Regions from separate parts of the Homo sapiens genome. Here region 2 is linked to region 1. Evidence: fine-mapped expression QTL. Tissue or cell type: whole blood. Region 1 holds a variant in brackets; the other region holds the start of a gene. All regions are shown on one strand. Distances are from middle to middle. Region 1 has its middle 28 kb from the start of ZNF195. Region 2 holds the start of ZNF195 (zinc finger protein 195).

Region 1 (16,478 bases):
AATCCTGTGTGGCCTGAGATGAGTGTCTTTCATGCCACGTGACACCCTTGAGGCCCGTGCAAGCTGTTGGCATGTCAACAGTTAGCTGCTTCTCATTGCTGAGTGGCGATTGGTCCTGTCATGGTTTATTCAGCCATGTGGTGGATGGCTACTTGTCTTCTAAGCCACTTGCCTTCTGATTGCTGGACTGACTCTCTCGCCCTCTCTTGGTGCAGCCCTCGGGAGGCTCAGTCACACTCTCCGAGAGCACAGCCATCATCTCCCATGGCATCACAGGCCTGGTCACATGAGATGCTGCCCTCTACCTGGCAGAATGGGCCATCGAGAACCCGGCAGCCTTCTCTCATAGGTGACCTCGGGGCGCACGGCAGGACACCGAGGCAGGCTCACCCTGGTGCAGTTACAGACATGGTCCCCTTTCCTCCCGCCAGGACTGTCCTAGAGCTTGGCAGTGGCGCCAGCCTCACAGGCCTGGCCATCTGCAAGATGTGCCGCCTCCAGGCATACATCTTCAGCGACTGTCACAGCCAGGTCCTCGAGAAGCTCCGAGGGAATGTCCTTCTCAATGGCCTCTCATTAGAGGCAGACATCTCTGCCAACTTAGACAGCCCCAGGGTGACAGTGGCCCAGCTGGACTGGGACGTCGCGACGGTCCATCAGCTCTCTGCCATCCAGCCAGATGTTGTCATTGCAGCAGGCAATGCCCAGCCCCGGGCACTCTGTGCAGGCGGTGTCCTTGCAGCTCTACCCAGCTCTGGGCTCTGGGAAAAGGGAACAATGGACGCTGTCGGGCATGGACATGATGGGGCTTCCAGAAGAGTTACTCTGGGCCTCCAGGGTGACATCAAAGGACAGGGGTGCCTCTTAAGGTGACCTTCCAGCCACAGCCCTCTTGTTGGAGACAGGCATACTCCCATTACAGTCATCACCACATGGCTCTGTCCCAGAGCCATGCCTCTGTCTTTCAGAGACCACAGGAGGAAAACAACCACTTCTGGGATGAGGACAGGGCCCTTGAGAGAAGGTGGTGTTTGGCTGGGCCACCGAAAACCCCTCGCCCCTGCCAGCACACTCGGTCTCCTCTCTGGTTGAACAGAGCTCTGCCTGTGGTCCTGGGTCCCAGCCCTGAAACCCACAGGTCCAGCGGTGGCCAGGGACACAGGCCCACCCCTGCAAGCCAGCAGACAAATCGGCAGACACCTGAAACACGAAGTTCATGGCAGGGTCAGGCTTTGTGTCATTCACAGCCCTCTAGATAGGCCGAGAACCAGAGCTCATTTTTTAAGGAACACCAGTGAGTCTGGAGATTTTTTTCTTTTGCTTCGGTCTTTTGCAGCTTTCTCTACTAAGGGTTCTCCTTTTTCACCCAAGCAATTGCCTTTCCATCTAATGGCCCAAATGGTCAAATGGCATCTACTAGTCTCATATGACTGCTGCCTCTCTGGCCTCGCCCTGCTGCTGAGGTCAGCATGACCTGGAACTGTCCGCTGGTCCCTTTCAGTAACCTGAAGCTTTCACCGTAGACGTGCTGTATTGCCCAGAATCCATCGTGTCGCTGGTCGCGGTCCTGCGGAGGCTGGCTGCCTACCGGGAGCACCAGCGGGCTCCTCAAGTCTACGTGGCCCTTATCGTCCGCAACCCAGAGACGTGCCAGCTGTTCACCACCGAGCTATGTGAGCCCACACGCCCACCCGGGCCTGCATGGTCCCCGAGCTGTCCCTGCGGGACTCCAGTGGAAGTGAAAGAACTGGGGGCCGAGGAAAAGCTAGGATGCCCCACACTCCCACACCATGCGGGGAACTAGGGCAGAGGCCGGTGAGCAGGGTGGGCCTGGGGCGTGGGAGCTTGCGGCAGGAGGAGGGCAGCTCAGCACAGGGAGGGAGGATCTGAGCCCAGCAGCCCTACTGTGTGCTTCAGAGCAGGGTTCCCTAAGCCCTTGGGCGTCGGTTTCCTCATCTATAAAATGGAGGTGGTGGGAGGGGCAGTCGGGGTCAGGGCTGGACACAGCTGTGGCCTGCAGGACGCTGGAGCACAGGCTGTACAGGCGGATCCACCACGCCACTGTCCTGAGCACCCAGTTGATGGAAGACGAGCAGGGTGACTATAGAGAAGGGGAATTGTCCCCGTAGTGGGCCAGCCACTGTCCTCAGACCTGACATTTGTCAGCCCCCAGCACCTGTGAGAGTGTGCTATCATTGTCCCATCTCACCGACAAAGACACTAGGACACACAGAGGCCAAGCAACCCCTGAGCTCCCACAGACTGCAGCTCGGCCACCTGGCTCTCGTGCCTCCACACTACACCCAAGCCCCCCATTGCCACCAGCCTTTGCCCCAGATCACCCTGAGCACAGCCCCTCCTGGCAGCCATGTGCACAGATGCACGCGCAGCAGCCTCTGCCTGCACACAGAGACGTGGGTCCAATGCCTGTCCACGTGGGGCAGCGCGTTAACTACAGAGCCAACAAACAAGCCAGCACACGAAGGCATACTGGGTTCCACGACAAAGTCCTGCACAACCTCGCACAGGAGGCTGGCCGGGCGCGGGGCTCAGGCCTGTCAACCCAGCACTTTAGGAGGCTAAGGCAGGGGGACTTCTTGACACCACGATTTCAAGACCAACCTGGGCAACATAGTGGGACCCCATCTCCACAAAACATTCAGAAACTAGCCGGGCATGGTTGCGCACACCTGTAGTCCCAGCTACTCGGGAGGCTGAGGTGGGAGGATAGCTTGAGCCCAGGAGGTGGAGGCTGCAGTGAGCCCTGATCTCACCACTGCACTCTAGCCTGGGCAACAGAGCAAGACCCTGTCTCAAAAAGGCAAAAAAAAAAAAAAAAAAAGGAAGTCTTTCTTCAGATACTTATGTGAAAAAATAACTGCAATATCTTTGAAGTGAAAAAAACAGTGCCAAGCAGAACACATAGTATAAGCCCCCACCCACCTTTTTTTTTTTTTTTTTTTTTTTTTTTTTTGGAGACAGTCTGGCTTTGTATTGCCCAGGCTGGAGTGCAGTGGTGCCACGGCCCACTGCAACCTCCCACCTCCCAGGTTCAAGCTATCCTCCCATCTCAGCCTCCTGAGTAGCTGGGACTACAGGTGCGTGCTACCACACCTGGCTAATGTTTGTATTTTTTGTAGAGTCGAGGTGTCGCCATGTTGGCCAGGCTGGTCTTGAACTCCTGACCTCAAGCGATCTGCTGCCTCAGCCTCCCAAAGTGTTAGGATTACAGGCGTGAGCTACTGCGCCCAGCCCCATTTTTGTTTAAAAAATAATAATAATCACCCACACATGTTTATGAGTACCTATATTCCCAACTACTCAGGAGGCTGAGGCAGGAGGATGGCTTAAGCCCAGGAGTTTGTGGCCCCCTTGAGCAACATAGCAAGACTTCATCTCAAAAAAAAAGTATCACAATAATCATTTTCACATAAGTATACCTATTGGGGAAAACCTAGAATATATATGTAGCAGGCTCGTCCAATCTGTGGCCCAACACAAATCTGTAAACTTTCTTAAAACAGTACGAGGTTTTTTTGTGATTTTTTTTTCTTTTAGCTCATCAGCTATTGCGAGCATTAGTGTATTTTATGTGTGGCCCAAGGCGATTCTTCTTCTTCCAATGTGGTGCAGGGAGGCCAAAAGATTGGACATCCCTGATATACACATTAACAGGTGCCATCCTTGGATGGCAGGATTATAGAGACTTCTACACGTTCATGTCTGTACTACTTTATTTTTATAAATACACATTTTCCACTCGTAACAAAAAACTGTGATTGAAAATCATCCCGTGTCACAGTGTCTCACGCCTGTAATCCCAACACTGTAAGAGGCAGAGGATTTGGGAGGCTGAGGTGAGCGGATCACTTGAGGTCAAGAGTTCAAGACCAGCCTGGCCAACACGGTGAAACCCCATCTCTACTAAAAACACAAAAATTAGCCACGCGTGGCGGTGCACGCCTATAATCCCAGCTACTCGGGAGACTGAGGCAGGAGAATCACTTGAACCTGGGATGCATTGCAGTGAGCTGAGATTGCACCACTGCACTCCAGCCTTGGGAACAGAGTAAAACTCTGTCTAAAAAAAAAATAATAAAAGAGTCTGAGGCAGGAGCATCACTTGAGGCCATGCATTCAGGACCCCATCTCTACAAAATAAAAAAATTACTAGCATGGTGGCATGCACCTGTCATCCCAGCTACTCAGGAAGTGGGAGGATTGCTAGAGCCCAGGAGTCGAGGCTGTAGTGAGCAATGACTGTGCCACTGCACTCCAGCCTGAGTGACAGAACAAGATCGTATCTCAAAAAAAAAAAAAAAAAGAAAAGAATCATTCTGGCTAACGGCTCTTCAGACATCTGTGCTTATGAGAACACCAGCCCCTTCTAAGCTGTGTGTGTGTGTGTGTGTGTGTGTGTGTGTGTGTGTGTGTGATTTTGTTTTTTTTTTTTGAGATGGAGTCTCACTCTGTCACTCAGGCTCGAGTGCAGTGGCGCAATCTCTGCTCACTGCAACCTCTGCCTCCTGGGTTCAAGCAATTCTCCTGCCTCAGCCTCCCAAGTAGCTGGGATTACAGGCACCCGCCATTGTGCCTGCCTAATTTTTGTATTTTTGTAGAGATGGGGTTTCACCATGTTGGCCAGGCTGGTCTCGAACTCCTGATCTCAAGTGATCCACCCGCCTTGGCCGGCCTCCCAAAGTGTTGGGATTACAGGCGTGAACCACTGTGCCTGGCCGCTTTCTAAGCTTTGTGAAGAGTGAGTTGACTGAGCAGCCAGGTAAGTGTGGGTTCAGATCTCTGCGTCTGTCCCGCTGTGCCAAGTGCTGGGCAGACGCGGGCAGAGACTGGACAGCGGCACGGTGCCTGCTGCTAGCCATTTCTATGCAAAACCAGATTTCTGGTCCCATCCTGGAGGCCAATTCTAGGCACCTGGGTGGGCCTGAGAACCTGTGAACCAAGTAAACTGACTTGTACACGCCCCCACCCCGCCAGGCCTGTCCTAGCAGCCCCACACAATACGCTCATGTCCTGTCCCCAAACACTGCCATCTTCAAACACATGTCCTCTGTTTCCAGGCCGGGCCGGGATCAGATGGGAAGTGGAACCTCGTCATGACCAGAAACTGTTTCCCTACGAAGAGCACTTGGAGATGGCAATGCTGAACCTCACACTGTAGGACTCACACACGACTCCAACGGGATTGTGAGAATCAAGTCACTCTCGTGGGAAGAGTTTTTATATGGGAAAGCGGATAAAACTTTCATTGGACTGGAATGTTTGGAGAATGTTAATTTCCAAATCAGGAACCACAAACTGCCCTCTGATAAGACATCGGCTATCTAAGCTTGTGGGTGCTCCCTTTCTGCCAGCAGTTCTGGTTCTTAAGAAAATCGCCATCAATCAGACATGAAAACTCTGGCTCCAAAAATAGCATTTTCTTTGTGCAAATAAAAACGTGTGTATCAAGTATGATGTTCCCCCCAACGTGGACACACTCGGTTCCTCACAAAGCCAAGCCCGCTGCAGCTGCCACATCTGTGGACACACTCGGTTCCTCACAAAGCCAAGCCCGCTGCAGCTGCCACATCGGTGGACACACTCGGTTCCTCACAAAGCCAAGCCCGCTGCAGCTGCCACATCCCTGGACACACTCGGTTCCTCACAAAGCCAAGCCCACTGCAGCTGCCACATCCCTGGACACACTCGGTTCCTCACAAAGCCAAGCCCGCTGCAGCTGCCACATCGGTGGACACACTCGGTTCTTCACAAAGCCAAGCCCGCTGCAGCTGCCACATCGGTGGACACACTCGATTCCTCACAAAGCCAAGCCCACTGCAGCTGCCACATCCCTGGACACACTCGGTTCTTCACAAAGCCAAGCCCGCTGCAGCTGCCACATCCCTGGACACACTCGGTTCTTCACAAAGCCAAGCCCGCTGCAGCTGCCACATCCCTGGACACACTCGGTTCCTCACAAAGCCAAGCCCGCTGCAGCTGCCACATCCCTGGACACACTCGGTTCCTCACAAAGCCAAGCCCGCTGCAGCTGCCACATCGGTGGACACACTCGGTTCTTCACAAAGCCAAGCCCGCTGCAGCTGTCACATCGGTGGACACACTCGGTTCTTCACAAAGCCAAGCCCGCTGCAGCTGCCACATCGGTGGACACACTCGATTCCTCACAAAGCCAAGCCCACTGCAGCTGCCACATCCCTGGACACACTCGGTTCTTCACAAAGCCAAGCCCGCTGCAGCTGCCACATCCCTGGACACACTCGGTTCTTCACAAAGCCAAGCCCGCTGCAGCTGCCACATCCCTGGGCTTATGGTGCAGCAGGTGCTTTTTTCAAGACAGGAATCAAAATGTTAGGAACACGGCAGAAAGGTGACACCTGGAGACCAAACGCAGGATGAGGAGTACTGCAGAGGTCACAGGGAAGTCACAGAACAGTAATACGCTAGCAGGGGCATGGGGCGTGAAGAACAGAAGAAGAGAGGAAGTGTTTCCGAGCCTCCAGAAAAGAAATCAGAGCCAAGCACAGCTTCCCGGGTCACAGAACCAATTCATTCACCAGGTGGCACTACTGCCATCATTTCAGCTTCTGGCCACTGGGAGGCGCTGCTCGAAAGGATTTGCCCTGAGACTCTGAGAAGAAGCTGTGGGAAGGACAGCAGGGGTCCCGGGGTTTTAGCCTCTGGCCCAGGAGTTATGTGTCCATAACCAAAGGGAGCACAGTCTGCACCCAGCTCTAATCCCATCGGAGCTGCTGCGACTCCCGCAGGTTCTTCCGGAACTGGTTTAGCTTGCCCGCAGGATCAGGAAAGTTTGAGAAAAGCACCTGCAAAAAAATAAAGAGCAGAGCTTACCTCATTGCCTGTCCCCACCCCATCCCATGTCACCACCTGGCTGACCCCAGGTCCCCTACCCAACAACAACCCCTCCCAAGTTCCTAACTCCCTCACTTGGACTCGAGACTCTTCATGCCCCAGCAGCGCTCTGCCTCCAACTTGACATCATGCTTTCTGGAAACTTCCCCGTATGTCCCACTTTCCCACACTTGGTGCCCTGGAGCACCTCCTGGCCTCTACATGCTGTATGTTCCCCTGCGAGCACCCTCCTCTTGGCCTCCGGCCAAGTCCCACCCATCTGTGGGTAACAAGGGGGTGTCGGTGTTCTTTTCAGCCTTGCTAAACTGTCTGAATCAAGGATCACAAACTACAGCCTGCAGGCCAAATCCAGCCCACAGCCTGTGTTTGTAAATAAAGTTTTATTCGAACAAAGCCACACCCCTTAATCGACAGATGATCTGTGGCTACTTTCACACCACAACAGAGTACCATGGTTCTGACAGAGACTGGGGGACCCAGTCTAAATGACTTCTGACCTGGACCTTTACTGAAAATCCTGCCAATCATTCTGTTGGCAAGAATGATGTATTACTTTTAGCAATAAGAAACAAGTAACCTTTGCAGAATTCCACCCATCTTTCAAGGCTGGTCCCAGAAGCTCCCTTTGCCCACGCACCTACCTGACCCTGATCACTTCCTAAACTGCAGCCCGGCCCACCCGGCTCCAGCATCATTTGTGGAATGTCAGCTCCATAAATCCAGAGGGCAGGTGGGGGTGTGTCCTAACTTTCCCGAGCTTACTGTACCGAAACGGGACAGCAGAGTGGGCCGGACTCTGTGACCTCTGCTCCCTCCCTAGCTTTTCCGCCAGACCCCACATGGTCCCACCCTGGCTGTGGGAAGCAGGGATCAGGGAGCGTGGCTCGG[T/C]GCCAGCCTCCAGAACCCTCCCCACCCTGGCGTGGTGGCAGATGTGGCTACCTGCAGCTGAGCTGCCAGTTCCTCTGAGTCCTCAAAGACCAGGCCATTTTCTTCATGTTTCACCAGCTCATGTAAACTGCAGAGAGAACCAAGGGAGCCTGAGAGCTGCCTGGAGAAGACACCAGACCCCTGGGGTGCCCACCTGGGCTCCCCCCAACAACCCATGCTCAAGCCAGGCTGGGGGTTGGAACAGGGGGTGTGGTTTCTGGGAGCTGGTTCTTAGATTTGGCATCTGAAGGGTATAAAGGCCTGGGGGGGTGCACATCGAAATGGCCAAACCGATTTGAGGAGGGAGCCTTAAGGAGGGTTTCTACCTTCTGTGCTGGATGCTCTTCAAGGACTGAAGAATTATTTTTGCATGTTTTGCTTAATTCCATGGCCATGGAACAAGTAAAGGCAACACCCTGGGGACTGGCTCAGCACATAAAAGATGACTTTTCTAGGGCACCAGGTTTGATCCCGACATTCCCTGAGCTCAGCTCACACGAGGGGCTCACATCCCTGACTCCCATCCAGGAGCCGGCTCCTGAGCAGGGGCCAAGGGCTCAGCTTGTGCTGGGGCTACTGCTTCTAGAATCTCCTCTAACACCGCCCTTCCAAATGCCCGTCTACGCTGGGTGCAGTGAGGCCACAGCACGACACTCATTTAACTCATTCAAACCCAGCACGTGAGCTTGGCCAAACAGGACATGGTGGGAGAGAAAGAAACAAAGAAAACCATGTAAGCCTGCAGGCAATTCCCGCCAATTCTACTCTAGGAGCAAAAGCCCCGAGTGGAGTTCCAGTATTTAAGATGCTTTTTTTTCATATTAGGTTGGTGCAAAAGTAATTGCCATCTTTAATGGCAAAAACCGTGATTACTTTTGTATCAACCTAAATATAACATGAGCTCTAAATGGAAGCAACTACTTCAGTGAGGCTCAGCCCAGACACAGTAACCGCAGGGCTCCTCCTCGTGGCCTCCAGTGTGTGCTGGACTGACCCAGGAGCAGGGCCTCACTGTGGGCAGCTCGCTCTGCACTGTTTCCTCCTCAGCGGTGGATCTGTGAAGCTATCCCCAGAAAGATTCGGGTTCTGCTCCTGCCACTTGAAGTTCACGGCACACACAGGCAAACAGCACCCGAACATGTCCACCACCTTCATGGGCAGGTCCAGGCCACTGCAGGACGTGTGCAGACAGACACCCAGATCCACCGACCCTGCTGGGCAAGAGGGGTGCGGTCAGAGCGCTGGTCTCTGCCCTGGGAACACAAATCCTCCCAGCACAGTGAGGCAACATCCCCCGAGGGGAGTGAAAATCGGATAAGTCCCCCGACAGCCCCAAGCACAAGTGGCTTAAGCTGGCCAAGCAGCCACATGGCCTGGCTGGGACATCTGAAAATGTAAGTTGACACTTTTTCTACGTAACCACAATTTGGTTTTTTTGTTGTTGTTTTGTTTTGTTTTGAGACAGAGTCTCACTCCGTCACCCAGGCTGGAGTGCAGTGGCACAATCTCAGCTCACTGCAACCTCCACCTCCCAGGTTCACCTCCCGCATGTAAGCCCAGCATTTTGTGAGGCCAAGGTGGGTGGAACACCTGAGGTCAGGAGTTCAAGACCAGCCTGGCCAACATGGTGAAACCCCATCTCTACTAAAAAAAATACAAAATTAGCGAAGCATCGTGGCAGGTGCCTGTAATCCCAGCTACTCAGGAGGCTGAGGCAGGAGAATTGCTTGAACCTGGGAAGGCGGAGGTTGCAGTGAGCCAAGATCGTGCCATTGCACCCCAGCCTGGGCTACAAGAGCGAAACTCTGTCTCAAAATAATAATAATAATAATAATAATAATAATAAAAAACCACAGCACACCCACTACAAACCAGCTGTCAGTGTGAAAATAAAGTGAAACAGCTTAACATTTCTAAAGACTAGCTGGGGCCAGGCGTGATGGGTCACGCCTGGAATCCCAGCACTTAGGGAGGCCAAGGCAGGAGGATCACTTGAAGTCAGGAGTTCAAGACCAGCCTGGCCAACACGGTGAAACCCTGTTTCTACTAAAAATACAAAAATAAACCAGGTGTTGTGGCGGGCTCCTGTAATCCCGTAATCTACTCGGGAGGCTGAGGTGGGAGAATCGCTTGAACCCAGGAGGCGGAGGTTGCATGAACTGAGATCGTGCACTCCAGCCTAGGCAACGGAGCGAGACTGTCTAAAACAAAGACTAACTGGAGAGTCCTGCCAGGAAAAGGCCCTCAGCCTCCAACTGCTCTGCTCACTCGAAGCTGGAAGATGTGGCTCTAGAGACGCATCAGGACCAAGCCACGACTCCCCACTTGGAGAAGTCAACGGGGAAAGAGACGGAGGCAAAGGAGAACCATCTCACTGGGAGAGGCGACGCTGTTTCACACATCGTCCCTGTACCTCCCAAAGCCACTGCCCTCCCACACCTGGGCAACAGTGGCCCCAACCCCAGGCCCAGCCCTCCTGCAGGAAGGAAGAGGACTGAATGGAGGGCGCGGAAGGCTGAAAGGACGTGGCCTCCTCAAACCCCTTGGTAAAGGGCCTCTGGGGCCACCTGGCAGGGAGGGGCTGGCACACCAGGAAGTAGCCTCCTCCCGGGAGTTCAGCCAGAGCCCAGGTCCTGTCCCCAAGTGGCCTCCAGAGCCACATTTTCAGAAAAAGTACATCCCGCCCACCCCTGTTCCCCCTGCTTAAGGCCCCGCCTCCTCCCTGAGCCTCCTGCTGGCCTCTCACCTAGAAGCGGGGGTAGTCCTCGGCCTCCAGCCAAGGGGTGCAGACCTGGATGTGCTGGAAATGCTTCTGGTGGATGAGGCGGCTGTAATACTCCCTCGGAGGCCCTTTGCCTTCACAGAGAAGAGCAGATACTGCCATGGACTCGTCTCTGTCCCTGCCAATTGGCCTCAGGCCCAAGACACTCCCCCCGAGGAGGGATCCCTTTCCCAGAAGCTCCACCCCTCGGCCGCTCCAGTCAGGTCCCATCCAGGCCCTTCCAGAAGCAACGCAGGAGCCCCTAGACCTGCAGGGGTGTGTGCACTCTGACCCCTGACGCACAGCCCTGCATTTGCAGCCAGCTGGCCTCGGGCTGCAAACATGGCGGGGTAAGCACTGGCCTGGCAGTCGACCGCCCACTGGGTGGACCCAGCCTTCTGTCTGTGTTGTGCACAGGGGACACGAGGACTCCCCCTGCCCTGCCACAGCCCCCAGAGCACATGGCGCAGGTTCCAAACCGCCCCTGCCCTGCCACAGCCCCCAGAGCACATGGCGTGGGCTCCAAACCACTCCTGGGAGCCTAGTGGCCAGAGGAGGGAGGAGAGCAGGACCAGCAGCTGGCCCAGACCCCGCCTCTTCCCACACCACTTCCGCTTTTCTCCGTCCTCAGAGTCACCTTGAAAGGGCTCAGCAGCAGTAACTGTGGGACAGGGGTTCTTCCGTTTGAAAAATTAAAAGAGGCTTGGTTAAGGCACCAATGACATGGCCAGGCACAGTGGTTCGTGCCTATAATTCGAGCATATTGGGAGGCCAAGGTGGGTGGATCACCTGAGGTCAGGAGTTCAAGACCAGCCTGGCCAACATGATGAAACCCTGTTTGTACTAAAAATACAAAAATTAGCTGGGTGTGGTGGGCCCCTGTAGTCCCAGCTACTCGGGAGGCTAAGGCATGAGAATTGCTTGAATGTGAGAGGCGGAGGTTGCAGTGAGCCCAGATCACACCAGTGCACCCCAGCCTGGGCGACAGAGACTCTGTCTCAAAAAAAAAAAAGAAAAAAGACACCAATGATGTAACAACAACAAAAAAAAGATGCTTGGAAACTACTGAAAAAGTAGAAAGTTTGGTATCTACAGATTCAAATCTGGGCTCCCTGCCCTGCTGTGAAATCCTCTGAGCCTCAGTTTCCCCCATGTCAAGCAGTATAAGACCCTATGGCAGAGAGCTGCAGTGAAGATTAAGGAGACAAGATCGTGGGAAGCACAGGGTAAAGGCTGCGTGCCCCTCCCCCTCCGCCATCCCCCAACCAATCAGACACCCAGGGTCCTAGGCGGTACCTGTTATCACACAGACGAGAGAAGGAAGGTTGTGTCCATCAAGAGTCAGTTGTTCAAACTCTGTGTTTAAAAAAAGAAACAATTCTACATGGAATTTCTGATAGAATTTCTTTTTTTTTTTTCCTGACAGACTCTTGCTCTGTCACCCAGGCTGGAATGCAATGGCGTGATCTCAGATCACTGCAACCTCTGCCTCCCGGGTTCAAGTAATTCTCGTGCATCAGCCTCCCAAGTAGCTGGGATTACAGGCGCCCACCACCATACCCAGCTAATTTTTGTATTTTTAGTAGAGACAGGTTTTGCCATGTTGGCCTCGAACTCCTGACCTCAGGTGATCTGCCTGCCTTGGCCTCCCAGAGTTCTAGGATTACAGGTGTGAGCCACCGTGCCCATTCAGAAAAAAAGTTTTAAATAAACAATAGCCAGAGTCACCTGTTCAGGTGGAGAAAGAGCACTGCTCTGGTGGGGAGGCCACCAGCCTCTGTGAGATACTCTCCTGGAGGGGGCATTTCAGCCTGAGGGCCTGGTCACTGAATGACCCAACTGGGGATTCAGGGCGGCCCACCTCCACCACCCCCGCTGTCCCCAGGCTGCCCCACCCAGTGGCCCGGGACAGCAACACGCTGCAGGCCAGGCAAGCAGCTCACAGCTCAGCGGCCCCCGACAAGCCCATAGATCCTCACCGCAGCTACACACCTACTTTCTAAAGCTGCCAGCAGATGGAGAAGTCTTCGTCCTCTATGAGAAGAGAATTGAATGTCAGGGGCCTGTTTCTAGACACCCCTCTTCCAGCTCACACGCCCTCCCCTTCTCATTGAGACTGTGGCGGGGTGGGGGCATGCAGGACTGGCAGGGGTGAGGAGAACACAGGTTGGCCAGGTGCCCGTCACACCAAGCCCAAGTGTTCTAGGGGTCGTGCAGACCTGTCCAGCCTGTGCTGCTGACCAGCAGGGCTGGCCGCTCGCGGAGGCGCATCACCAGCCCGCTCCCAGCATCCCGCTCCATGAAGGCCGACCGCTCCGTGTCTGGGTCCTCAGGTTCTGAGATGAAAGAGCAGGAAAAAAGCCTGTGAGAGGCCACAGAGCAGGCCCGGGACCCAGGACGGGCATCTCCTGCCATGGCAAGGCCTGCAGGCTCCCAAAGGTTGGGGTGCCCAGCCACATCAGCAGCACCAGGCCACCCCTGCCATCTGAGGCCTGGGCTTGCTTTCTCTAATATTGTTGCTGGGTGCTAAGGTTACAACAGCAAACAAGACTGACTCATTCCTTTTCTCCACGCGACTTACTGTCTTATCATCCCCTGGACTCAAGATGAGGGTGCAGGGACACCCTCCCACACCACTCCAGCTTACCCAGGGGCACACCTCAGGGTGTGTGGACCTGCACTAAGGTCCCCTCCTTAGCCCCGTGAGACACCCCAGGGGACACACAGGTCCACAGATCCTGCCACAGGCCTGGGAACCCACTGGCAGGAGAGTAAGACAGCGCAGGGGTCCACAAACATTTCTTAAAGGGCCAGAGAGTAAATACTTCAGGCTTTGCGGGCCACAGGTTCTCTGTTGCAAAACACGATTCTGCTGTTGTAGCTCAAAGGCAGCTGTAGACAACTCAGAAGTTAATGAGTGTGTTGTGTTCCAATGGAACTTGATTTACAAAAGCAGGAGACTGGCCTGTAGCCTTAGTTTGCCAACCCCTGGATGAGTGGGTTCCCAGGTCTGCAGTGAGAAGGGGAGAGGACAGGGCATTGGCAAGCAGGAGAGAAGGCAGCTGAGGATGGGAGGCCTACCAGGCCCTGAACGGAGAGTGCGTGCCGCCCAGCTTCATGAAGAGTTGGTGCTGCAGGTCCAGAGGTCTCTTGAAAGAAAGATGCTGGCTTGTCATAGACGGTCACAGCCCTGCAATGAAATCATGGCAGGGCTATTGGGAGGGCTGAAGAAAGGCCTCAGGAATAGAGGACTCAGAGGCTCCAGGAAAAGAAGGATGCTTGGGGAATCCAAGTCTCAGACGATGACAAGAAGAAGCCTTGCAATTACTTGGGAATGCACAGAGAGATGTTCTAGGACCAAAATTGCCTGGACCCCCTGGCTGGCTGGGAAAGAAACTCTGCCCCCTCCTCTCCCAGCTTCCCCAAATTTTCCCATAATGTTGCCAAGCATTAGTCCAGCGTGGAGGCTACTTTTTGCTCAAACCACTCATTTGGGTCCCACGCCCAATGTAACCCATCCTCAGCAAAACAACCTTTATTTCCTTCTTCCACGTTTCCAGAAAGTTCCCCTAAAGCCCTAGGAATCACCAAATGAAAGGGGCTTTTTACAAACAGGAAACTTAAGTGGAGTGCCAATACACAACATGAATTGCACCAGGCTGGGTCTAAGATAAAACCAGACTGTGGACAGCAAGACAGATAAGACCCACATGGCTCTGCACTGCCTGGGTCTGTTATGGTGTGGAGGAATGTCTTAGTCTGTTGCTCCTGTGGGTGTAGCTAAAGCACGAACCAGGAGTCTTCATCCTTAGAAAGCAGTTAGACAGACACCTGAGAACCAATCCCAAACTGCAGCCTTCCACAGAACCTTCTGGAACCTTCCCGAATGCAACTCATTACTGCCAGAGGGTCTTTGATGAGAGTCTACTCTCCACCATTTGTCTTCAAAGAGAATACCCACATATTCTCTTTCCATGGAAAGGTAAGTTATTAGAGTTTATGCAGTCTGGTATATTAATTGAGAGCTTCAAAGAATGTCACGTTTACGATTCAGTCTCACAGACTGGGTTAAAAAGGCAGTGTTGACTATTAAGTTGTAAATTACTATAATGATCATTATTATTATTCAAGCAAGCTGTGAGAAATGAGCATTATCTCACAATATCTGCATTTTAGTGAACCTGAAGGAAGAGTGTATTTGCTGGAATTACAGAAGCCTGAGAACCACAGGGGAATTCTCACTGCAGGGTATTCAGGGTCAAAGGCTGATTCTATTTTGCATGCTCAATCCTTCCTCAATTTATTTTTATTTCTTTCTTTATTTTTTGAGACAGTGTCTCACTCTGTCGCCCAGGCTGGAGGGCCTTGGTGCAGTCTCAGCTCACTGCAACCTCGCCTCCCGGGTTCAAGTGATTCTCCTGCCTCAGCGTCCGGAGTAGCAGGGATTTGAGGCACCCACCACAAAGCCCAGCTAATTTTTGTATTTTTAGAAGAGACGGGATTTCATCATGTTGGCCAGGCTGGTCTCGAACTCCTGACCTCAGGTGATCCACCCACCTCAGCCTCCCAAATTGTTGGGATTACACATGTGAGCCACCACACCTGGCCGGGCCTAGGTTTTTGAAGAAGGAATTGAACTGAGTGTAGGCCAGGTTGTACTGCTGAAGTGTCTTCTTTGTACTTGGAATGTGCTAGGATGGATAGACTTCAAAGTGCAAAGCGCCTGAAGGATCTCGCATTCATCAATTCTATGCACTGAGCTTCTGTCCCCAGAATACCACTCTCAGAGTAGGAATATGGCAAGGCCAGTTTGATAGGTGGGGCATGGATTGGAGGCTCAGGCCACTGCACTGCACATACAGGTCTTGATGTAAACGGTCTGGTGGAGGTCAAGTTCTGTTTAGCGTGGGTAGACTATGTGACAGAGTGAAGAAAGGTAATGGTCTAAACGCAGCAAAAGTTTCATTCCCACTCACGTGCCAGTCTGTGGAGCAGGCAGCTCCTCTCCTCATGAACCTGGGACCCAGGTATCCTCCATCTTGTGGTTCTGCTTCTCCAGAGCCTTGTCATTTTTTTCATCTAGCTATGGTGACAAGATCTTTTGGATAAGCCATGAATATTAAACCAAAGGCAAACTCTGAAAATTGATTTGACGTGTGGTCAGCTGCTCATTTAGCACAGTCCGGGGAATGCTGGGGTGATGGGCAAGAAGGTTTTCATGAGGAGGTTGAAGAGATCTAAGTATAGGGGTGCCAGCCTGGGGCACTTCAGAAGGGGCACTGGCCTAGGGGTAGCAGCAGGGCGACCCTGATTTCCCTGGGGCAGGGTGTGGCTCACGACGGGGTGCTGAGAACCCACCAAGAAGGCTGGAACTTTCAGCACTCATTGTTTTATGAGGGCCTGCCTGTGTGCCAGGCTGGAAGACACTGACCAGAGGCCCAGGGCAACTGAAGAGTCTCAGCCTGGTCTCTTGGTGCCTGGGGGGTACACTGTACAAGTGATGATGTAGTTCCAAGGGGCAGGACTCTGACCCACACTCCTGGTGCCAATGTCCGTTTTGCCACTCATGTTAGATTTTGCTTCTTTAAGTGAACTTACTCAGGATAGCTGGGTTCTTGGTCATTCTTCCAGTGGTTTTCAAGGGTGAAAAAAGGAGTTTCAGCAAGACAGCTAACGTCTGGATGAGTGAGCCAGGAGGTGTCTGTAGCCTTCCTCTAGAGAGCACTCTGGGCTGGTGGGCGTGAGGACTCCAGTTTCATGCGCGTCCGTGTGAAGATACCACCAAACAGGCTTTGTGTGAGCAATAAAGCTGTTTATTTCACATGGGTGCAGGCAGGCTGAGTGAAAAGAGAGTCAGAGAAGGGAGATAGGGGTAGGGCCATTTTATAGGATTTGGGTA
Region 2 (16,478 bases), 29 kb after region 1:
GCAATGAATCCAGCTTGGTTATAGTGTATATGTATTTTGATTCCCTGTTGAATTCTGTTGACTAACATTTATAAATTTTGCATGTCCTTTCAGAATTAAAATTTGAAGGATGTTCTTGGAAGATGGTAGCTTGAGTAAATAGTACCTCTCCTGCTGACTTTCACTCCAACCCATTTCAGCCTCTGCTCTGCAGCACAGTGGGCAGAGAGGTCGTAAGGTTGTGGATAAGGTTTTAGGCTTCACTTGAAACTCTGGGTGGGATAGAACTTGGGTAACAGCATTGGAGACCATGGTCTGGGAGAAGATTGGAATGTGATGGGTCTGAAGAAAAACTTGGACCACAAAGAGCCACAGAACACAGTGAAGATCAGTGTCTGTCCTCTTCCCATTATACTTATCAAAATCCAAAAAAATGTACAACACGGAATGTTAACTCCAATGTGGACAATGGACTTGGGGTGATTATGATGTGTCCACACGGGCCCATTGATTGTAAGCAATGTACTGCTCTGGTGTGGCATGTTGATAGTAGGTGTGGCATGCTGATAGTAGGAGAGGCTGTGCATGTGTGGGGTCAGGTGGTTATGGGAGCTCTTTGCACTTTCTGCTTAATTTTGCTGTGAAGCAGAAATTGTTCCAAAAAATAAAGCCTACTGAAAAACGGTTGCAAATGAATTGAAGGTGATCATTAAGATTCAAATTAATGGCCTCAAAGATTAAGTAGAAGAAAAATCTTGAATTGACAGGAATACAAAGAAATTGAAAACATGAGAGAAAAGATTTGAAAACAGACCCAGGACATCAGGTGCAAATAACATAGGAGTTTCAGGGGGAGGAAAAGAGGTAGATGGAGGAGAGGCCGTGATTAAGCACAAAAAAAGAAAATTTCCTGAAACAAAGGAAAAGCTGAATCTGCCTGTTAAAAGGGCTAACCGAGTTTTGGGTAGAATTGATGGTGAAAATGAACCTTTAGGAATATTCTGGTAAACATGTATGAGTTGCTAGACACGAAGAACAAGAATATAGCAATATGTCACCAGTGTACTCACCTAAGAATACAGCAACATTTCAACAGTGTACTCACCCTAGAATACAGCAATACATCACCAGTGTACTCACCTCTGAATACAGCTACATGTCACCAGTGTACTTGTCCAAGAATACAGGAATATATCACCCACGTACTTGCCTAAGAATGCAGCAACATGTCAACAATGTACTTGCCTAAGAACATAGCAATATGTCACCAGTGTACACGCCCAAGAATACAGCAATATGTCACCAGCGTATTCACACAAGAATACAGCAACATGTCACCAGTGTACACGCCCAAGAATACAGCAACGTGTCACCAGCGTACTCATCCAAGCATACAGCAACATGTCACCAGTGTACGCGCCCAAGCATACAGCAACGTGTCACCAGCGTACTCACCCAAGAATACAGCAACATGTCACCAGCGTACTCACCCAAGCATAGAGCAACACGTCACCAGTGTACACGCCCAAGAATACAGCAACACGTCACCAGTGTACTCACCCAAGAATACAGCAACATGTCACCAGCGTACTCACCCAAGGATACAGCAACATGTCACCAGTGTACTCACCCAAGAATATAGCATCATGTCACCAGTGTACTAGCCCAAGAATACAGTAACATGTCACCAGTGTACTCACCCAAAAAGGCCAGTACTGTGACTACCTAAGCTTCCCCCAGCATGGCCACACTATGAGACCTGGGGCAGCCGAGACCCGGGAACTGCTCCAGGGCACCAGGACCCATCTGTCTGTGCTCACTCACCTTCCTCGGGTGCTCGCATGGGGCTGCCACTGACGACGAACTGCTGCAGCTCCTTGGTGATCTGGCCCTGGTCATGGGACAGGAACTGTAGGGTCAGGACCATAAGGAGCTTCACCACCTGTAGAATGGGAACAGAGGCTCATGATGAGTGGCAACCTATTTGATAATTTAAACAAATCTATTTGTTGAATGAGTGGAGAAACAAGGTGAGGTTTGAGTCCACAGTGGTCAAGAGCATGGGGGCTTCAGAAAAGGGCAGGACCAAGTTCAAATCCCTACACTTCGAATTTCTACTTCATGCCATGCAAAATTACTTTACCCCTCCTAACCTCAATTTCCTTCTGTGTGAAATCAGAACAATCAACTTTCCCTCCTCATTTTCTTTTTTTTTTTTTGGAGGTGGAGTCTCGCTCTGTCACCCAGGCTGGAGTGCAGTAGCGCAATCTCGGCTCACTGCAAGCTCCACCTCCCGGGTTGACGCCATTCTCCTGCCTCAGCCTCCCAAGTAGCTGGGACTACAGGCACCCACCACCACGCCTGGCTAATATTTTTTTGTATTTTTAGTAGAGACGGGGTTTCACCATGTTGGCCAGGATGGTCTCGATCTCCTGACCTCATGATCCCCCCGCCTCGGCCTCCCAAAGTGCTGGGATTACAGGCGTGAGCCACTGCACCCGGCCCCCTCCTCATTCAGTTTCTGTCAAGATTTCATGAGATAATACCTAGAAAACATCTAACCTGTTTACGTGGAAGATCATTTTTGTCATAATTAGTAGTGGGATCAATTTCACTGTTATTGTATATACAGCTCTGTGCCTCAAACCTGCAAAAAAAAAAAAGAAAATGTTAACTCTAAAAAGTGCTAGTGGTTTATAATGCTTATATTATTAATTATAGCCCTATTTAATCGCACAGACCTTGTACATGGCAGGTGCTCAATAAACACTTGCGGAATCAATGAATGTGGGCTCCAGAGCCACACTGTGTAGATTCTGTTCTGCCTCCACCACTTATTAGCTGTGCCATCTGGGCAAGTTCATTCACCTCTTTATGTCTCTGTTTCCTTTTCTGTAAAATATATCTAATACGAATCCCTAGCTTATTAAGTTGTTGCAAGGGGTGAATGATTTGGCATACAGTAGGGTCTTGTTAAACATTAGCTGTGATGAACTCCTTCCAAATCTTCATTTTCAGAGCCACAACGAGGCCACAGTGCCACCTGGAGTGTAAGCACACAAGATCACCAACTATGTTATCTTTCCACCATGGGTCCAAGGCTGGGTAGTGAAGGCCTGGAGGTTTCTCCTGCCTCTATCTTCCCAGTGCCCTCATGGAGACTTTTGTATTTTCCTCTTTACATCCCCACAGATAGGGTCCAGGTTGCCCGACACAGCTGGGCAATCCACAAGGCAGTGACCCCCTGTGCCAGCCCTGTGAGGTAGCTGGAGGATCATTGTTCCTTCCTTCTCAGGCTCTGGGCAGATGCCAGGGCTGGGGTGAACCACGCCCTCAAGTTTCTTGCTTTGGAGAGTCACATTTTCCCTTGGGAAGGAGGGTAAAGGTCAGAGGAGCCAGAGACCTGTGACCTGCTTGTGCCATGAGCCCTAACTATAAGGACCTGAACACTCTATATTAAAAGTCCAAAGCTTGGGGGCTCCACCGAGCTTCTCACCTCACGGCCTCTGCTAGGGAGGATGAATGCTTTGTCCTCCCAGAGCTTTGCGAGCTTGTAGCACACAGCCTCCCCAGCACAACATCTCTTGGAAACCTCAGACTTTGTCTTAAACATTCATGCAAATTTTGCATCTTATTTCCCATTATGTCAGCATGTTTTAGAAAAAACCCTCAACTTTCCTGAATATACAAGAGAATTTGACGTTGTAGAACATTGTGCCTTTTAAAAAAATTGTGTTATTTAAAAATTTTCCCCACCCCCCCTTCTGCCCCCCAAGACTGCCAAATCCTTTTTGAACAAATATTAGGAAATGCTTATTATGTGCCAGATATGATTCATGGTCTTGGGGATATAGCAGAAAACAAATACCTGGGTATGAAATAATCTGTACAACAAACCCCCATGATGTGAGTTTACCAATATAACAAATCTGCACCTGTGTCCCTGAACGTAAAAGTAAAAAAAAAAAAAAAAAAAGCAGTGGTTTGGGGTCTGGCCCACACTCTAATCCCCCGGAGACCTTTAAGCCACAATGTTGCCCAGGCCCCACTCCAGTGATTCTCATTTTACTGGTCGGTGGCAGCTTGGGTTTGGGAAATTCTAAATGCCATCCCCCCAGGTGATTTTACATGTAGCAGGGGTGAGAACAATTGATTCAGGGTAAAGAATGCATTCACTGTAGCTGGTTTCCATGCATACTGATGGGATTTGCCACATAGGAGCTTGAAAAATAGCTCTTCCTTATTAAAAATCAACGGACACCTCCAAGATGTACTTAGCTGTTCGGATAAATTGCTGCAGAAAAAAAGTCTTCTCAGCAGATGTATCTTTAAGTCACTTGATTTCAGAGTAAGAGGTTGTTTCAGTCACAGTACTTATAGTCAGTGTTGAAAATTATGAACAGCCTACAAATACCAAAAAGGAATGAAAGCATTTACAGACATATAGGATACATTCTGTTTTAAAATTGCTCCTCTGTTGTTGGGCTCTGATTTCCTAAAGTCATCTATCAGCCATTTCCCTCAAATTATTCCATGTCCTTCCAAGAAGCTTCTGCAATTTCTCGAGGTGATTGATTATTCCCAATGGTAAACAGCACCATATGGGTCCAAATCTAAAAGGAATTCTGCCTCTATTGCAGAAGAGTTACTCTCCAGAAACTTGCAGGCCTTGGAAAGCTGTATGAGCAGTGCAGTCTATGCAGGAGTAAGGGCTGCAGAGCCAGGCAGAGCTGATCCTGAGTACCAGCCCAGCTGCTTAGCAGCTGTGGGACTTTGGGCAAGGTTCTTGACTTGGAGCAGTAATATAAACCTCTTCTGCAAGAAAGGGTAGAATAATACTGATTGCAGAAACAGCAGCAATGCTTCATTACTCTCTGTATCTATGCTCTTTATTGTGTGCTCTTACAGCTCCTCCCATCAAGAGGCCGAATGTGTTTCCCAAACTTTGCATCTGGCTGGCACTATTTTCTCTGGCTATAGAAAACTGTTGTATTAGTTTGTTTTCACACTGCTGATAAAGACATTCCTGAACATGCGAACAAAAAGAGGTTTAATTGGACTTACAGTTCCACATGGCTGGGGAGGCCTCAGAATCATGACGGGAGGCAAAAGGCACTTCTTTCGTGGTGGCGGCAAGAGAAAAATGAGGAGAAAGCAAAAGTGGAAACCCCTGATAAACCCATCAGATCTCGTGAGACTTATTCACTAACATGAGAATAGCATGAGAAAGACCCGCCCACATGACTCAATTACCCCCTTCCCCGGTCCCTCCCACAACACACGGGAATTCTGGGAGATACAATTCAAGTTGAGATTTGGCTGGGGACACAGCCAGACCGTATCAACTGCGAATATGACAGCTTTTGTGCTAGTTTTGGGCCTAGGCTCAAAAGGTCTTAAATGCTTCTGTGTTTCTCAGAACCTTGCTATCTTTATGAGATCAAGCTATCAGAACCTTGCTATCTTTATGAGATTAGCCAGCTGGAGGATGACATACCATGGTGGGGAGAAGGAAGGTGCCACTGTTGATAGCCATCTCATCCCCAGAAGCAGAGCCACCTAGTCAACCAGCAGCTGGCCATACATACATGAAGCAGTCCAGTTGTGACAAGAATAGCTCAGTTGAGTTCAGCGTGAATGGCTGATGAACTCAATCATGAGCTATTAAGTTTTCGGTGATTTGTTATGCAATAGCTAACTAATACATGCACCCAGGGCAGATAGGGTGCCAGGATTCAATGAAAGGTTGATTCCTAGTTACCTGCAAGAAGAAAGCACTTTATAGGTACTAATTCTCCCCCCTTATTTAAAGTTGGATCTTTTGTAAGATAATGTTCCGTCATACAGAAATGCATGTACACATGTATATATGTGATTGGTGCTTTTACTCACACAGCCCCCCAACCACGGGAAGAAACAGACAATCACAGCTTGATCATTAGGGCTAAGGCCAAATAGCAAGATAAGTCTGCCTCTAGTCTATTTCCTCCATATCTAAATGTTGGAGGTCAAGGCTATGGACAGATCTGAAGATGTGTTCTCTCCTCTTAGGGCCCCATTATTGATGGGCAGCAGTCCTCTACCCGTGGATATTTTCTTTTGCTTTCCCCTATGCTCTCTAGGATCACCATCTCGTCCACCCTTCGACCGGAGGAGAGATGTTTGTAGCAAGAGGCTGTTCCCTCACCTCTGGCTGAAAAGGGACTTTCAGACCCTCCACTTCCTGACATAAGGGAGGTTAGACCTCAGAGCTGCACTTTAGTGTGGCAGCTATTGATCATGTGTGGCTATTGAATAACAGGAATACAGCTGGTCTGAACTGAAATGTGCTGAAAAGGTAAAATACAGAGTGAGCTTCAAAGATTTAGTACCCCAAAATATATACTTCCTTACCAATTGTATATTGACCATAGAGGAAAATGGTTACATACTGGGTTAAATTATTACAATCAACTTCACCTGTTTCTTAGTACATTTTAAAACGTGGCTACTAGAAAATTTAAGATTCACACATGGCTTACATTTTAATTCTTAGAGGCTTGAATCCTTTTTGAAATTTCAGGCTGTCTGTTCAAAGGACCAAAAGCCAGGAAGGCCATAAAATATAAAAATTCAAAATGATTGTCTTTATTTTCTTCTTTCCATTGGTGAATAACATATATTTATTATTTATAAATAAACATAACCGCAGTCACAAGATGAAATGTAAATATCCTCTAGGTGGGGCCGGACAGCGCAGGCAGGAAGCCCCGCTCCAAAAGATCGCGGCCAGCACCTGTCCTTGCTGTCTCATTCGGCCCATTGTCTGATTACAGCTCCTGTCACTCAGGGCCTGAGGGGGCGGGGCGTGATGCCCTATCCAATCAGAGGAGTAGGGGCGGGGACTGTCCAATCAGGCACATGTCTGGAGAGGAGAGGACGGCTTCCGGGATCTAGCGGGGCCTTTGTCCCGACAGAGCTCCACTTCCTGTCCCCGCGGCTCTGTGTCCCCTGCTAGCCGTAGGTCGTGTGACCCGCAGGCACCGGGAGATCCAGAAGTGAAACGCCAGGCTCTCTGGAGGCCAGGAGATGGTGAGTGTAGGGGCCAGGCCTCCTGAGAGACAGGGAGGGGCGGACTGGAACCCGCGGTACCGGCTCGGGAGGAACCGGGCTGCCCGGGTGGGTTCCGGGCTCCGCGGACCCGAGGCCCCTCCAGCTGCACCATGGCGGCCGGGCCCCGCGCGCCCCGGCGCATCCCTGCAGAGCGGCTTTGGCCCAAGCCCAGAGCCATGTCCCCCCGGCAGCTCTTCGCCCGCAGACCCTCGTCTCCCCGAGTCAGGAAGGGAGAATCCCGACTCCGTGGGTGGTTTGTGCATAAGAGGATGATCTGTAGCCCGTGGGGGCCCCAGTCCCTCCTTTCTCTCGAGGGAGTCCTTGCAAAAATGTGAAAGAGTTTTATTTGAGCAAAGAGCGATTCATGAATGGCAGAGGACCCAACCATGTTTTTTGGGTTTGGAGGTCCCACCAGCCGGCCTTGAAGGAAAGGCTTTTATCAGGTGCATGAGGAAGCAAACCACATTCATTCATTAGTTCGGTACAGTTACGTCATCTCCTGATTTCAGCTATCTAGGCTGAAATTTTCTGGTCCTGTAATCAGAAGTTAATTAGAGGTTTGTGGTTGACGAAGCCTGAATTTTGTTTCTGCAAGATAGTCATTTGCAAGAAACGCATCTGAGTTAGATTTTTTTTTTTAACCTAAGAACCCAGGGCACTAGAGCCACCTCAGTCGGATTGCCTGCTATTTAATTATTATTATTTTTGAGATGGAGTCTCGCTCTGTCCCCCAGGCTGGAGTGCAGTGGCGCGATCTCGGCTCACTGCAACCTCTGCCTCCCGGGTTCAATCAATTCTCCTGCCTCAGCCTCCCGAGTAGCTGAGATTACAGTCCTGCACCACCACGCCCGGCTAATTTTTGTATTTTTAGTAGAGACGGGGTTTCACCATGTTGGCCAGGCTGGTCTTGAACTCCTGACCTCATGTGATCCGCCTGCCTTGGCCTCCCAAAGTGCTGGGATTACAGTCGTGAGCCACTGCGCCCAGCCTGGACGGCACTTTTTAAGAGATTTGTTTTCTGTTTGTAATCATTCCACGTGACAGGAAAGCAGAGAATCATCCCCTGACGCTATTGTAAAAAGTCTTTGTGCCTCTCCTCCTTTTTATTTTCCCTAGGCACAGACACCTTACCAGAATGTCTTTGGTTTGAGGTTCCACTTTGGAAACTTGACAGGGTGATTTGCTCTCAGCCACCCTCTGGACTTTTTCCTCAGTTTCAGTATTGTCCAGGGATAACACAGGATGCCCACCATGGCCATGTCTGCTGGAGCATCTAGTGAATTTCAGGCCCTGGGTTATTTCTCAGAGGACAGCCTGAGGTATGAAGTGTGGCCTCTCCAGGGAGCAGCTGGATGCCCTGGGCTGAGAGAAATCTCCTGGTCTACTCTTCCTCTAAAGAGGTAACCACTTAGGACATTAAGATTGTCTTCACCCAACCCAACTTTCAATCCCTGGAGACACATGGCTGATCAGCCAATCACATGCCCCTGTCAGAGGGAAAAGACCGAAATCATTTCTGCCCTTTGGACTCTCAGATTTGTGAAGGGAGACAGAATGTTTCAAAGAGCAAGAAAAACTCCACCCCGTGAGATGGTGCAAAACCTGTAAAGCAAAATTCACCTGGGACACTCAGCGGGGCACAGTGCAGTGTATCATCGGGGGTGGCCGGTGAGCACTTCGGTGAACAGGATGGAGGTGGGAGAATCTCCCAAGGAATAGAATAGCCTGACTTGACACAAGTCATTAGCTGTGTCTGTGTTCCAGTCGGCACTGCCACTCTCTGTGTCTCCTTGAAATAATTTATTCACTTACTGCAATGTTGGATTTTTAATTGTAAATTTACATTTTATCAGTAGAGCTTGAAAGGTAAGAAAATACTTACAAAGGACATGAAATAGGTCAATTTCAGGAAAAAAGTTAAATATCTAGTCATACATACCTTTTTCTTCTCCAGAGTGATTAAGGGTAGAAAGTTACTTAGGTCTGTTCTTTTGTGGAAGATGATTTCCAACAGAATCCCAGGGCTTAGCTTTGGGAATGCTACCAGGGAACATAAAATGCTTCTTGGATGGCTGTGGAGAATGTTTACATTTTCTACAAAAAAATTATGGTAGATTACTTGGTAAATTGCATAGATTCATCAGAACATGAGCTCTTTTTGCAGGATGAATTTGTTGTCATGAGTATCTCTGTTTTATATCCTGTTCTCTAGATGTCTGAGCTTAATGCTAAGTTGTAGGAGATGGAACTTAGCACTTCTAAAAGTGTTCACATGTGATTGTTTACTATATGATTTGTTATGGAAATAGTTAAATGACAAGTTCATTGTCTGAAAGCAATAAATAATTTTGCTTTTTCTGTGGAGGTGAAAGTGTAAGTGCTTACAGTTTCCTTTTCTTCTGTAAACTGTTTCAGTGATTTTGTTGGATGTTTCCAACACTGGGTATTTTCTTATTTAAACCTAAGTGGATAACCCTGATTGGGAAGTTGAAGCCCAAGAACAGTCATTCCAAGCTAAGGCTAATACTGAGTCTGCAAAAGAAAGCAATCGAAGGCCTGGCTCAAGCTTGTCCAACCCACAGGCCTGGGCCACATGCTGGCCTGGGCTTTGAATGTGGTCCAACACAAATTCGTAAACTTTATTAAAACATTATGAGACTTTTTTGTGATTTTTTTTTTTTTTCAGTTATCAGCTATCGTTAGTGTTAGTGTATTTTATGTGTGGCCCAGGGAAGCCAAGATCGGACACCCCTGGCCTAGCTAGTGCTTCCCAAGGAGCCTCCCCTGCGGGTGCGCCAGACTGCTCACAGCAACCATGGAAGGAGCCTTTCTACAGAGAGAAGCTGCAGAGCCCGGGAGCACTGGGGACCCACAGGCAGATGCAGTTAGAGTTGGGATGGAAGGAAGCTGGGGAGGACTTCCTGGGTATGGAATCGTTATTATCCTGGGGCTGTTTCTAGACTTCGTCAAATAAAATAAATTTAGCTTTAGATAGGAAGTTATTGAACTCTAAAGGAGGATTGCAACAGGGAGAAGGTAGCAACTATCATGGATCTCATGGCCATAGAGGGCATCTGTGCAGGGTCACCAGGAACTCTCTCACCAGCACCTGGAGTCTTTTGGACATTCAGGAGTGCACTGTGCAGACGGGGCTCAGGCTGACAAAACGGTCTATCTGTGCTTCTGTTGTAGAATAAGAGAAATGAGTCACCCAGGGTTTGTTCCTCCCCTCAGAGAAGAAACCTCATTGGTATCCACATGGGAATTACTCCAGTTTTTCTGGTACTTCAGTAAAAAACAAAAATGAGATCTGGAGATTCAAACTGATAAACTAATTGATTCCATCCTGTGTAGCCATTAGGAAAACAGAGAAGGCAGCCATGGTCCCCGCAAGCCAGAAACTTTTCCATTTCCAGTAACTGGATAAATCATTGAATTCAGCGTCTTGGGGTCAGCATGAAGAAGGGAGTGGTCAAAGGGACTTCTGCTTCATTTGGGCCATTTTCCTGATGTGGTTGTTGTGAGTTCTGATGTCATATTGAAGGGATATTCAGACAGACAAGGTGGTGGTGGTATTATTTCTGTTGCTTTTGCCCGGCTAAAAATAAATATTTAGCTTCTACCATATCTGTCCTAGAAAATCCTAAAGGTTTCGGTTAAATTGCTTGTTATTTTATGTTATAAAATAGACAAGGAAGTGGCCAAAATAGATTAAAATTATACAAACCCTGGGATTTAAATTTTGGGGTGGGGGGCAGTTTTAGGAAAAACAGAATTGTAAATACTCTAGTAGCATAGAGAGCAGAATCCTGCGTAGGGCCCTCTCCCTGCCCAGACATGCCCAGACTCTCCTTCTCTGAGTCTCATCCAGGTCTGGCTTCACCCTGGACTCTCCTCCGACAGAGTTAACTACAGAATTAAATCAGAGTTTTGGGTTTAGCTACAGAGTTAAATCAGTTTGGAGTTTAACTACAGAGTTAAATCAGAGTTTGACTCCTGCTGCCTCTCCGGAACTGATACACAGAATTTTCGGAAACCCCAAAGCAGATAAATGGGATCAAAGGACTCTCTATTTTGGAGCCTTAATTTTTCTTTTTTACTAACACCAGCGCTGTTAGAGACATCGTATCCAGCAAGCTCTTTCTCAGTCCTGTGGGTCTAATAGTTGCTTCACAAGCCACAAGAAAGTGAAGATAAACACAACAATGGAAAGTGCCTTTGCACTACACTTCATCCCCTCTGTATCCCTTCCATTGGTCTATCTGGAGCTTTTATCACTACACTTTTAAAACGTTAATGATAGGAAAATAGAAGAGGAACCACAAAGCCTGGTCCCTTCATCTATATCTTGAGAGTTGCAGGACACTTGGTTCCATCACCCAGGGTGTGGTGAGGATTAACTCACATGACGTGAGGTGCCCAGCACAGTGCTGTCACATACATCCGAGCACCCCGTGCCTGCTTAATAAACACTGCATTCATACGTGTGTACACATTGTTTTCCAAATGCAGACAGACTCAGACATTGCTTCCTTCTCCAGCCCTGGAAAACTTTAAAGAGCCAGGAAATAATGTAATCTTTCAGAATAGAGATTGGCTGTCTCCATTTGCACCAGAAGAACTTATGTTGTGGTCAGAGGGTTGGGTGTAAGGGACTGTGCTGGGGCTGCTTTCTTTAGCTGAGTGTTAATGATCACAAGTCTTGGGGGAGCAGCATCACCATTAATGGCAGAACTGTTAAAAAATCCAACCCATGAACCCCTTTGAAATCTTCAGAATCACATGACTTAGAGTGGGGCCAAAATTACCAAAAGATTCATATGCACATTGAAGCTTGAGAAGCAAGGCTTAGCTAAATGGTTCTCAGCCTGGCTTCTAATTAAATCACATGGACAACTCAAAAAAAGGCCCTCACCTTTGCCCTCACAGATTCTGCCTATTGGTTTGGGTGGAAGCACCAGTGCTGTTTAAGTCACATGCATCATGGGATTCTAAGGTGTGGCCAGAATCAGTGATGGGGGGTTTCAGATGCATTTGTACGAGTTGAGCTCAGCCTTGGTTCCAAAGGGAGGTCACAGGGCCTTCTTTGCCTAGGTTTCAGAGGCCAGCTCAGTGCAGCTTATACTCCAATTGCTGAAGCAGAATTGCTGTTGTTTAGCAGGAGAGGGAACCTGAGAGCAGGAAGAGAGAAAGTCACATTTTGATCTCCATGTAGAAGTTTACTGTTCCTGAATCTCTTTTATAAAGAACAGAAAAGCGTGGACTTTTTCTGTATTTCTTGGTCTTTCTGTTGATGGTTGTGGTGGTAGCAGGTGAAGGGGTTGTGCTAACACCTTTAAAGGCATATTCTCACGATGCAGGTGTGATTTGTCCAGAGAATCTTTCCTAAGAGGAAATCCCAGAGAAGCAGGAGAAAGAGAAAGAAATGGCTGGTGCTCAGGTAAATGCATCTCAGGTCAGGGGTTGTGTCCACTTTTGCTCCTGAAATGTCATGTGTTTAGAATTTGGAAACCTTTACTTCTCTACTTGTGGTGTTTCTCCATAGTAAGTTTGTTTCAACTACTTTTTTTTCTTATAATAATGAAGGGTCTCTGAAAATATTTGTTTTCTATATACCAAAGCCGTCTCTCTGTTATCTTCACCTTGACTTCTTATATGCCATGAAGAATTCTTACCATGACTTTATGACCTGCAGTATTAAAAAGTTCACTTCGTGGCACTGAACTTGTGGATACCCAGGATTCCTCTTGAGGATGGGGTGGGTTTTTGGATATCAGCAAAGAAGGGAAATGTGCACTCTTTAGGTTTCATCTGGATGCTCCATAAGCTGCATGCAGAACAGGACTAAGAAAATAAACATTTAAACCAGATGACATTTATCTCTCAGAATAACTCAAAGCATTCTGGAAAAGAGAAAAATGAAAAGACACTTGCTTTTTAGAATGCTAAAGAAAGACTCTTTTAATACACTATTAGAGATTACTGCTGGGCATGGTGGCTCATGCCTATAATCCCAACACTTTGGGAGGCCTAGGTGGGCAGATCGCTTGGGGCCAGGAGTTCGAGACCAGCCTGACCAACATGGTGAAACCCCATCTCTACTAAAAAAATACAAAAATTATCCAAGCGTGGTGGCACATGTGGGTAGTTCCATCTACTCCGGAGGCTGAGGGACGAGAATTGCCTGAACCAGGGAGGCAGAGGTAGCAGTGAGCCGAGATCGCGCCACTGCACTCCAGCCTGGGCTACAGAGTGAGACTCAGTCTCAAGACAAAAGAAAACAGATTACAGAACCTGGGAGATATTTGTCAGAACCTGGGAGATATTTGTCAGAACATAGGAGATATTTATTTGTCAGAACCTGGGAGATATTTATTTGTCAGAACCTGGGAGATATTTGTCAGGACCTGGGAAATATTTGTCAGAACCTGGGAGATATTTGTCAGAACCTGGGAGATATTTATTTGTCTCTTGAACTTTGCATAACACTAAGGTTTCGGTATGATTTGATTCAGATTATAATTGACCTTTTGGCCAATATCACACCAGTAATATGTCCTTCTCTGTGCATTGGCACGTGATAAAAATCTGTCCTATTACAGTTGATATTAGTTTTATTCAGTTGTTTAAAGAGCTCCCTGACAGATTTTCCATTGTGGAGTTTATTTTTTTCTCTTTTAAGTACCTTGAGGAGATTTACTAATTAATGTGCATAAATAATCACATTTAATCTGAAAGGTTTTGCTTCTTAGATTCTTTTTGCATATGCCTTGCTTTAGAAGATGAAGAATCTCATCTCTCTTTATGGTTTAGAAAAACTGGGATAAACCCAAGCTTGCCACTTACAGGATTTTTGACAAAATATTGTCCTTGGGCCCAAAGGACTGGCATCACTGGTGAGCGCGTTAGAAATTCGGAAACTCAGCCTTGACCTCCGATTTCCTGAAGCAAAATCTGCACACTAGTTTATTGGACACATGAAAATTGGAGAGGCAGCTTCTAACTCACCATGACTTTTCTGCCTGCGAAATATACACAGCTTATTCATGTGACGTAAATGTAGCACTCAAAAATGGACATGCCTTTGTTGATGCCCTTAATGTTATACTTGTTATCAACCAGAAAAGTATTGTATATACACTGCTTATGTGGCTCTCAGGCAATTCTCTTTCCTCAGAGTTAGAGAGTATTCTTCTGCTAAGAATTACCTTATTGTATAATTTCAGTCACTTGTGTAAGTCAGAACCAGTTCTCTTCACTCGCTCATTTCACCTCGAATCAAGTATTTGTTATTGTTGTTGTTTCTTCTTCAGACTCTGTTGACGTTCAGGGATGTGGCCATAGAATTCTCCCTGGAGGAGTGGAAATGCCTGGACCTCGCTCAGCAGAATTTGTACAGGGATGTGATGTTGGAGAACTACAGAAACTTGTTCTCCGTTGGTGAGGATAACTTCAATACGTAGTTCCTCCTATGCCCTAAAGAGTTCCTTTCGTTCCTCTGCGGAATGTTTTTTGGGAGTTTCTGCGTTGCATGAATGAGTTTCAGATCCCTGCTTTTAAGAAAAACATGGGGAATAGTTGATGTAAAAAAAAAAAAAATCTTCAAAATGTGGTTCATCTTGACATAAACCTTCCTTTTTTTTCAGCTGATCTGTATCTTTCACTCTAGTGACAATTCCAGAAATTCAGTGGCATGAAATATTGTTGCCCACAACTTAAAGTCAAATTTCCACCACCAATTTTTTATGTCAGCAGTACTGAGTGGTGAAACTAAGAACCCACAGATTTAAAATACTTACTGAATATTCTAAAGGTGATGTCAGGAAGCATAATTTTGGGATTAATTTTCTAGAATCTTATATAATGTTCACTCTACTAAGCACAGTACAAGGTTGATAATTGGAGAATTTCAGCAAGAGTAATGTCACTTTTTTCTAATAAAACAGGTCTCACTGTCTGTAAGCCAGGCCTGATCACCTGCCTGGAGCAACGAAAAGAGCCCTGGAATGTGAAGAGACAGGAGGCAGCAGACGGACATCCAGGTGGGTGGGAATGAACGAAGCAGGTAACCCAGGTGAGAGGTCCAGAGGTCGAGGAGGAAGCCAGACCTTAAAATGTGGTTTGAGAAGCTCTGCCCTAGTGGAGATGGTTTCTGAGAGCCTGGGTGTCTTTCTCTTGCTGTACCCTAGGAGCGTCTTCTGTCTCATTCTCTCAAATTTTGTATAGACTCTGCTTCCTGTTTAGTGATCTTCCTTTATAAAGGTTACAGTAAAAATCAGAGTCCTCCTCCTGACGAGTAAGGGCCTGTGTGGTCTCATGGCGTGCTCCGCCACTGCTTTTGGGAACATGCCTGTACCTGCCTGTTTTTGAGGAACTCTGTTAAATGTTTTTTGATTTCCTTTGCATCATGTCTGAAGTGTGCGAGAGGCGTGGTGATGGTGATTGGTTCAGAAATCCCAGAAGTCCCGTAAACAGATGTTGTATGCTTTCTGCTTTATGATTTCGTATCCTACAGAGGTTTCAAATGGGAGTCTACAGAAATGTATACTCAGCAGTTTTCTCCGAACACTAGGCATCTGCCCAAATATGAGATAATCTAATGTTATTTTACTTCAACATTTTATTTTATTTTTTTTAGTATGAGCTGAGGTTGGTCATTTAAACTTTATATTCCCTAACTCCCAACTGTAATAGTTATAATATTATCATTTTATAATTTCTTCTTTTTTAGTATGAGGCTTATCAGGACTCTGTCATTCATATGTATGTATGTGTGCATATGTATATATGTGTGTATATATGTGTGTATATATGTGTGTGTATATATCATATATGTGTGTATATATAATATATCAACATATCCTTTTGAAATGATAGGATTTCATTCTTTTTTATGCTGGAGTAATATTCTGTTGTCTATTTAAATCATATTTTCTTTATCCATTCATGTATATATACACACACATATATACAGTGTGTCTATGTGGGCATATGTGTAACAGATTATTTTAGAAATAAAAATTGTGTATATATTGTGTACAATGTAATAATTTGATATGTGTATACGTTGTGAAATAATTAGTGCAATCACTTCAAGGAACAAATCTATCACTTCACGTAATTACCTTTTCTTGTAGTGAGAACAGTTAATGTCTACCGTTGGCAAACTTTAAGCATACAAAAGATTATTAATAGTATTCGTGAAGCTACTCATTAGATTCCCCAAACTTACTCATCTTACAACTGAAAGTTTGTACCTTTTGAACAACAGCTCATTTTCCCCAACTCCAGGCCCTGGCAACTGCCATTGTCCTCTGCTCCTGTGAGTTCAGCCACGACAGATTCCACGTCTGAGGGGGAACGTGCAGTCTCTGTCTTTGGGGCCTGGCTGAGTTTATTTAGCAGGA

What was found. PIP is the estimated chance that this variant, and not a neighbour inherited with it, causes the effect.
Region 2: it holds the start of ZNF195, and the variant in region 1 is fine-mapped to the expression of ZNF195 in whole blood (INTERVAL, PIP 0.97).

What each region holds. Positions count from the first base shown.
Region 1 is chr11:3,399,050-3,415,527 of GRCh38, reverse strand. It overlaps the pseudogene TSSC2 and the pseudogene FAM86GP. Among named protein-coding and RNA genes, the nearest start is that of ZNF195, 28 kb to the right of the region's middle. RefSeq lists enhancers at 5,241-5,741, 5,742-6,242, 8,472-8,983, 8,984-9,497, 9,855-10,688 and 1 more and a silencer at 14,195-14,489. The variant T/C (reference allele first, on the strand shown) is at 7,780.
Region 2 is chr11:3,369,610-3,386,087 of GRCh38, reverse strand. It overlaps ZNF195 (zinc finger protein 195), which reads left to right and starts at 6,942. Exons shown (of 6, transcript NM_001130520.3): 1 at 6,942-7,050; 2 at 14,385-14,511; 3 at 15,018-15,113. The coding sequence starts at 7,048. It also overlaps the pseudogene TSSC2. RefSeq lists enhancers at 6,695-6,989, 6,678-7,241 and a silencer at 7,167-7,236.